Linked DNA regions of Homo sapiens. The protein of the gene in region 1 interacts with the protein of each later gene in a pairwise test. Each region holds a gene or a part of one and is shown in the gene's direction. Other genes may lie near its edges.

Region 1 (3,500 bases):
GAGATTGTGCCACTGTACTCCAGCCTAGGCAACAGAGCAAGATTGTCTGAAGAAAAAAAAAAAAAGAGAAAGTTAGAATTGGAAGAACTTTTTCTCCCTCCCTTCTTCCCTTTCTTCCTCTTTCCTTCTTTCTTTTTGGTGTTGGCTAATTCTAAACTTATTAGAACTTGGCGAATCTACCAGGGTTTTCTACTGTTTCCATGGTATGGATATAATATGTCTAGTTAACTAAGTGAAAAAGCACAAAGTGCATCTGAAGAAAGACAGGTTTAATTCTATTTTATTCAATATTATTTTCTGTGACCTTTCTTTATGTATTTGGAAATAACTGTTAAATTGATATACATGACATATCATTCATGAAAGTAAAAAACTGGCAGCTCCAGGACAAGGTAAGCCCAAACATGCATTTTGGTTTGGGTTAGCGCTATTTTTCATTTAAATGAATTTGATGCTTTTAAAAGGGCCTTGTTCTCTACCATTTGCATTCCTCATTATTTTACTTTCTCAGCTTTTACCCAGTAACCTTGCCTACCTAGCTCATGAAAGGATTTGAATTTGTGATACCTGATACTTCTACCCATGAGATTAAGGAACTTTGATAATTAGTCATGTGCTAGAAAAATATTATTAGATTTAAAAAGAAGTTTCAGTGACTAATATATTTTCAGTCTAGACAAAATAATATTTTGCAGCATACTATTTTTAACAGATTTTTGCATAGGAACTTTTATTCTACTTTCAAATTATTCAGTAGATATGTTAATAGATAGTAACATATAATGAAATAGATGTATTGATATGTTCCCATCCCTTTTTCAGATTCTTACTAAGGTGTAGGTTGGAGTCCCTTTTGAGGAGTAGAAGCACAGAAGAATGAAGTAGGGATAAACATTTTATAACCACATGGGTAAAGTAAATAGTAGAGATTGGGCTAAAGTCAGATTATGAGATATCTAGCATAATTACAACAGGAGATGTACGTGGTAAATAGAGCTGCACTGACTGTCCCAGCCGTCACTAAATTTCTTCTTAGTGACTCCAAAATTTACCTGTGCTTACAAATTTAATATAAGGCCTTCAAAAAAACAGCCCATCTCTTTTCCTTTCCCTTCCTTTATGGTGTTTGCTTACAAGTTGATACTGTTCTCAAGTAGCATACAAAATGTCAAAAAATTAGTTTATCTTACTCTGAAATGTTAATCAGTTTCTTTATTACAGCGTTATGGAACATAGACATAATGATATGCATTATGAATGTATGACTCCTTGTCAAGTTACTTCAGACTCAGATAAAGAGAAGACAATAGCATTTCTTCTAAAAGAATTGGATATTCTCAGAACAAGCAATAAAAAGGTATAATATGGAAAGTCTGATAATTGTATAGTATGGGTTTAGCTGTTGATCTTCTAAATTTCCTTTGTTGCCCATCATAATTCAGTTTTATTTTGCACTTTAATCATTTAACAGTAGCTTTATGTTTTTGCCATACCTTGCCATCAGGGTATGGTTGAGTTAAGGGGTTGAAAATGAAAGCATTTTTTTGATTTCATACCTTGCTGGTCCACATTAGCACTTCCTTTTTCATAAGCCCCTGGTTCCTTGTATACATATCTTTAAAAAAAAAGATTCAAGTTTTAGTAAAACTCTGCTTCAGTATTATAGAGAATGGGAGATAGAATGCACTGGTTTCATGTTACTATCTTAATTTTTTTTTCTTTATTAGTATCCATGCCCTATATTTGACCTCAATAATACATGTAATTAAACATTTCAGTAGCAAGGCTTGGCAATATTGTCATTTACCTTGTGTTAATCTTATACTGCTGCATTTTGTCCAGTCCAATTTGTCACGTTATGTTTTATCTTCTGTTCTGACTCTTATTCTAGTTATAGTCATGTGATCATTAAATAATTTTATTAAATAATGTGCATTTTCTGTGTCTTCTTTTTTTTTTAACCTCTACATACTGCTCTGATTTTAATATTCTAGTTGTGTAACCTAATCAAACTGAAGCATGATGTTAGGAATGTTGATCATGTTTGGAGGAAAACAACTAAAATGACAAAAACCTAGGGAGGAATTAAAAAAACATGTGGAGGGATTCTGTATGAGATGTTTTCTGTACTTTCATTTAGCAGTTATTTATTACATGCCACTTATGAGTCAGGTGTCAGTGTCAATTTAAATGGAATATGATGGGGTAGTATTCTCAAAGGGAGATTTGTATCAGATATTAAGATTATTGTCTTAATTTTGTTTCAGAATATTGGATTTACTAAGATAAACTGTAAAGCAGTGCTATCTGTTATTTTATTAGGCAAATCCCTTCCAAATATTTTGCATTAAGAAAAAAGGATGAATGAGACTGCTTTTGCAGTAGTCATTATTATTATTATTTTTTTTGAGATGGAGTTTCACTCTTGTTGCCCAGGCTGGAGTTCAATGGCGCGATCTCAGCCCACTGCAATCTCCGCCTCCTGGGTTCAAGCAATTCTCCTGCCTCAGCCTCTCGAGTAGCTGGGATTACAGGTGCCCGCCACCACACCTAGCTAATTTTTTGTATTTTTAGTAGAGACGGGGTTTCATCATGTTGGCCAGGCTGGTCTCAAACTCCTGACCTCAGGTGATCTGCCCACCTCGGCCTCCCAAAGGGCTGGGATTACAGGCGTGAGCAACCACATCTGAACTGCAGTAGTTATTTTTAAGAATAATGTTGGTCCTCTGAATTTAATTTGCCTGTTCATGCACATATACACATAAATTAAGTGTATATTGGGATGTTTTTACAATTTCTGTATAACTACAGGTAATTATTACTTTATAAATAACTTAAATTTTAAATTTTTTTCTGGAGTTATCTATCTAGGAAGTTAAATATAATATAAGAATTAAGAAAAAACCAAAAACTTTGAAATTAATTATATTTTTGCAAGACATTTGTCAAATAAGAATCCATGATTTTTTTCAATGTGCTTTAGCTTCAGCAGAAATTGGCTAAAGAAGATAAAGAACAGAGAAAACTAAAGTTTAAGCTGGAACTCCAAGAGAAAGAAACAGAAGCTAAAATTGCTGAAAAGACAGCAGGTATAGTAGAGGAGTATTAACACATGGCTTGAAGAATCACACACAAGGTTATTATATGATGTATCTTGGTGAATACTAGCATACTGGCTTATTTGCCAAAGGAGGGGAAGCTCTCCTTTTTTTTTTTTTTTTTTTGGCTGCTTAGAAAATAGGTGGCTTTAACATCCTGGTACTGGTATTAGTGAGAGCTTTACCTGTATTCATACTGATTTGGGCATTAAATGCATTGTTAACACCATGTCAATCCAATCACAAAAAGGTTGTTTGTTTTGTTGGAAGGGGCTGAACAAACAAGGGGAAATAATGATTACCAGTGCCTCTACCTTTCAACCAGCAGTTCAAATACCACTTATTGTTTTAGCTCGTTGAGAGGAAATACTTCTCCTTTGTATGAAGATAGTCACATATTCA
Region 2 (4,213 bases), on another chromosome or scaffold:
CTGTAATCCCACCTACTAGGGAGTCTGAGGCAGGGGAATTGCTTGAACCCAAGAAGTGGAGGATGCAGTGAGCCGAGACTGCGCCACTGCACTCCTCAGCCCGGGCGACAGGGTGAGACTCCATTTCAAAAAACAAACAAGAACAAAAAAAGAAAGGGATGGAGAGGAGGAAGGGTTCCGAGGCGGCCACCTGGAAGGAGCAGGAGCCTCTGGTGAGGGTGGGAGGCACCCTTGTCAGGGCCAGCAGGATGCTAGGGGGTGGTCCCCAGATGGGCCCTGGGGACGTCGGGTGGGGCATCCCTCTCCCAGACAGGGAAGCTGGAGGAAGGGCCTCATGTGTGAAGACCCTGAGGCTTGCTGGAGGGCGGAGGGGCCCTGGGAGAGGTGGGTGTGGGCTCCAGGTCCCCTCCCTGCAGCCTCCCCTCCCACCAGCCCCTCTGAGACTGAAACAGAGATAAAAATGTCCTTTTGGGGGTGCCACCCTGGAGGCCAACGCATTGGGCAGGGGAAGCGGCTCCGTTCCCTTCCCGGTGAGGCCAGAGACCAGGGTTCACAGGGCTGACTAGTAGGGACTGGCATGTGGGTGCGGGTCCTGCTGCCCCGCTCTCCTCCCAGGGGTCACCAGCCGGCCCCTCCCCCAGCATCCCTGGGGACCCTCCGCTCCTGGGCACCTAATTGGGAGCTGGGAACCCGGTGTGTAACAAGCAGCTACTCTGCTCAGTGGGCGGATGTCCGAGGAAGAGACAAAGCTCAGAGACCGCCCACAAGTTTAGGGTTTCTTGCTGCTGGTCCTTGGAGGGGCAGACGCGCAGGGCAGGGTGTGCAGTGGCGGCAGGGTATGGCGGGGGCCCTGGGCGCAGCCAGGACCGCGGGACCCGCGCGCGAGGCAGGGACGGGGGCGGGGGCGGCGGATCGCGACCCCCTGGCCCTGCCCCGACCACAGGCCGGATGGCAGGCGAGGGTTCCCAGGGCAGCGCCCGGGGGTCCCGGCGCCCACCGAGGCCTGGGCAGGTGGAGGCGCCAGGTGAGGCGAGCGGGCGCTGGGCGGGAGGCGGAGAGCAGGGAGGAGTCCGGCCGGGCAGGGCCCGGGGTTGCCGCTCACGCGCGCCCGCCGGCCCCGCACAGACGCAGGAGGCGCAGGTGCTGAAGCAGCTGGCGGAGCGGCGCGAGCACGAGCGCGAGGTGCTGCACAAGGCGCTGGAGGAGAATAACAACTTCAGCCGCCAGGCGGAGGAGAAGCTCAACTACAAGATGGAGCTCAGCAAGGAGATCCGCGAGGCACACCTGGCCGCACTGCGCGAGCGGCTGCGCGAGAAGGTGCGGGGGCGGGGCCGGGGCGGAGCTCGGAGCGGGCAGGGGCCGGGGCGGGGCCGGGGCGAAGCTCGGAGCGGGCAGGGGCCGGGGCGGGGGCAGGGCTAGCAGCAGTCAGGGGGCGGGGCACTGGGCGGGGGCGGGGCCAGGGCGGAGCTCGGAGCGGGCAGGGGCCGGGGCGGGGCCGGGGCGGAGCTCGGAGCGGGCAGGGGCCGGGGCGGGGGCAGGGCTAGCAGCAGGCAGGGGGCGGGGCACTGGGCGGGGGCGGGGCTAGGGCGGAGCTCGGAGGGGCGCAGAGCGGGGCCGGGGACTCCGAGGCGCTGAGCTGGGGTGGGGGTCGGGGGCTCCTCCCGTGTTTACTGGGCGTCCCCAGCAGCGCACGAGGCAGGTCCAGAGTCTGGTCCTGGCGGGACAGTAACTAGCCGCAGTAATAGATGGCTAAATTCATTATATTGAAAGTGCCCTGAAGGAAGCTCGGCTCCGGTACGAGCTAGAAGCGGGGCCCAGCCAGCTCCCAGGAAACCCGTCCTTGGTCCCTGGCCTTGCTCTGCGCCTCCCCGGTGCTCCCGCCCCCTCAACTCAGTCAGGGTCCTGCCGAAGGCCAGCCCGGATGAGGCCGGGCGGGTGCCAGGGCGCCACGGCCTGCGCGCCTGGGGGTTCCCGGAGTCGCCCCAAGCCACCCCCGCCCTCAGGCCCTCCCGCCCCCTGTCCTGCAGGAGCTGCACGCGGCCGAGGTGCGCAGGAACAAGGAGCAGCGAGAAGAGATGTCGGGCTAAGGGCCCGGGACGGGCGGCGCCCATCCTGCGACAGAACACGTTCGGGTTTTGGTTTTGTTTCGTTCACCTCTGTCTAGATGCAACTTTTGTTCCTCCTCCCCCACCCCCGCCCCCAGCTTCATGCTTCTCTTCCGCACTCAGCCGCCCTGCCCTGTCCTCGTGGTGAGTCGCTGACCACGGCTTCCCCTGCAGGAGCCGCCGGGCGTGAGACGCGGTCCCTCGGTGCAGACACCAGGCCGGGCGCGGCTGGGTCCCCCGGGGGCCCTGTGAGAGAGGTGGCGGTGACCGTGGTAAACCCAGGGCGGTGGCGTGGGATCACGGGTCCTTACGCTGGGCTGTCTGGTCAGCACGTGCAGGTCAGGGCAGGTCCTCTGAGCCGGCGCCCCTGGCCAGCAGGCGAGGCTACAGTACCTGCTGTCTTTCCAGGGGGAAGGGGCTCCCCATGAGGGAGGGGCGACGGGGGAGGGGGGTGATGGTGCCTGGGAGCCTGCGTGTGCAGCCGGTGCTTGTTGAACTGGCAGGCGGGTGGGTGGGGGCTGCAGCTTTCCTTAATGTGGTTGCACAGGGGTCCTCTGAGACCACCTGGCGTGAGGTGGACACCCTGGGCCTTCCTGGAAGCCTGCAGTTGGGGGCCTGCCCTGAGTCTGCTGGGGAGTGGGCATTCTCTGCCAGGGACCCATGAGCAGGCTGCATGGTCTAGAGGTTGTGGGCAGCATGGACAGTCCCCCACTCAGAAGTGCAAGAGTTCCAAAGAGCCTCTGGCCCAGGCCCCTCCCCACCAGGGCTTTGCAGATGTCCTTGAAAGACCCACCCTAGAGCCCTTTGGAGTGCTGGCCCCTCCTGTGCCCTCTGCCCTGGTGGAAGCGGCAGCCACAAGTCCTCCTCAGGGAGCCCCAAGGGGGATTTTGTGGGACCGCTGCCCACAGATCCAGGTGTTGGAAGGGCAGCGGGTAAGGTTCCCAAGCCAGCCCCAACACCCTTCCCACTTGGCACCCAGAGGGGGCTGTGGGTGGAGGCCTGACTCCAGGCCTCTCCTGCCCACACCCTCTGGGCTGAGTTCCTTCTTTCCCTTGGACGCCCAGTGCTGGCCTTGGAGGACGGTCAGCTGGAGGATGGCGGTGGGGGAGGCTGTCTTTGTACCACTGCAGCATCCCCCACTTCTCCACGGAAGCCCCATCCCAAAGCTGCTGCCTGGCCCCTTGCTGTAAAGTGTGAAGGGGGCGGCTGAGTTCTCTTAGGACCCAGAGCCAGGGCCCTCAACTTCCATCCTGCGGGAGGCCTTGGCCGGGCACTGCCAGTGTCTTCCAGAGTCACACCCAGGGACCACGGGAGGATCCTGACCCCTGCAGGGCTCAGGGGTCAGCAGGGACCCACTGCCCCATCTCCCTCTCCCCACCAAGACAGCCCCAGAAGGAGCAGCCAGCTGGGATGGGAACCCAAGGCTGTCCACATCTGGCTTTTGTGGGACTCAGAAAGGGAAGCAGAACTGAGGGCTGGGATATTCCTCATGGTGGCAGCGCTCATAGCGAAAGCCTACTGTAATATGCACCCATCTCATCCACGTAGTAAAGTGAACTTAAAAATTCAATCAAATGAACAATTAAATAAACACCTGTGTGTTTAAGACATGGTTGAACTGTCTGTGTGTGTCCTGCACCTGTGGGGTCGGGGGCAGCTGCGGGCTCCCTGTCTGGGAGTGAAGATCTGCTCTGTGTGTATCTCCAGACTGAAGCTGGTTATAAATCTTATTTTATCATCATGATTATGAATTGTTCTATTGACAACAGTGATTTTAAGATATGAGCATGTAAACTACACACAAGCCCACTTTCCTCTCTGGAATCCAAGGGGTGAGGTGTCAGGGTGGGGGGTGGCAGGGCCCGCTGCTGTGGGTGGGGCTGGCGGGGGCTCCCCTGCCCTCCCTCAGGGCGGAGCCCTCCTCAGGGGCTTCCTGTTGTTCAGGACTCTGTGGCCCGCCGCTCAGGAGGAAAGGGCAGGGCCTACATATGTATGCATCTGAGGCTGGAGCCTCTAGGCTGTGGGACTTCCTGACATGGGGGCAGGTGCTACGAGACCCCTGGGGCTGCACCCCACTGTTCTGTGGACTCACCCCACTCACCCCATTC

What was found. The genes of interacting proteins can lie anywhere in the genome.
Region 2: the proteins of MIPOL1 (region 1) and STMN3 interact in binary tests that used the Homo sapiens proteins (3 or more experiments, as listed by UniProt).

What each region holds. Positions count from the first base shown.
Region 1 is NC_000014.9:37,267,437-37,270,936, forward strand, and holds part of MIPOL1 (mirror-image polydactyly gene 1 protein), read left to right. Parts: intron 1-1,221; coding exon 1,222-1,357; intron 1,358-2,983; coding exon 2,984-3,089; intron 3,090-3,500.
Region 2 is NC_000020.11:63,639,212-63,643,424, reverse strand, and holds the end of STMN3 (stathmin-3), read left to right. Parts: intron 1-1,125; coding exon 1,126-1,317; intron 1,318-2,027; coding exon 2,028-2,087; 3' UTR 2,088-3,713; downstream 3,714-4,213. UniProt on the Homo sapiens protein: Exhibits microtubule-destabilizing activity, which is antagonized by STAT3.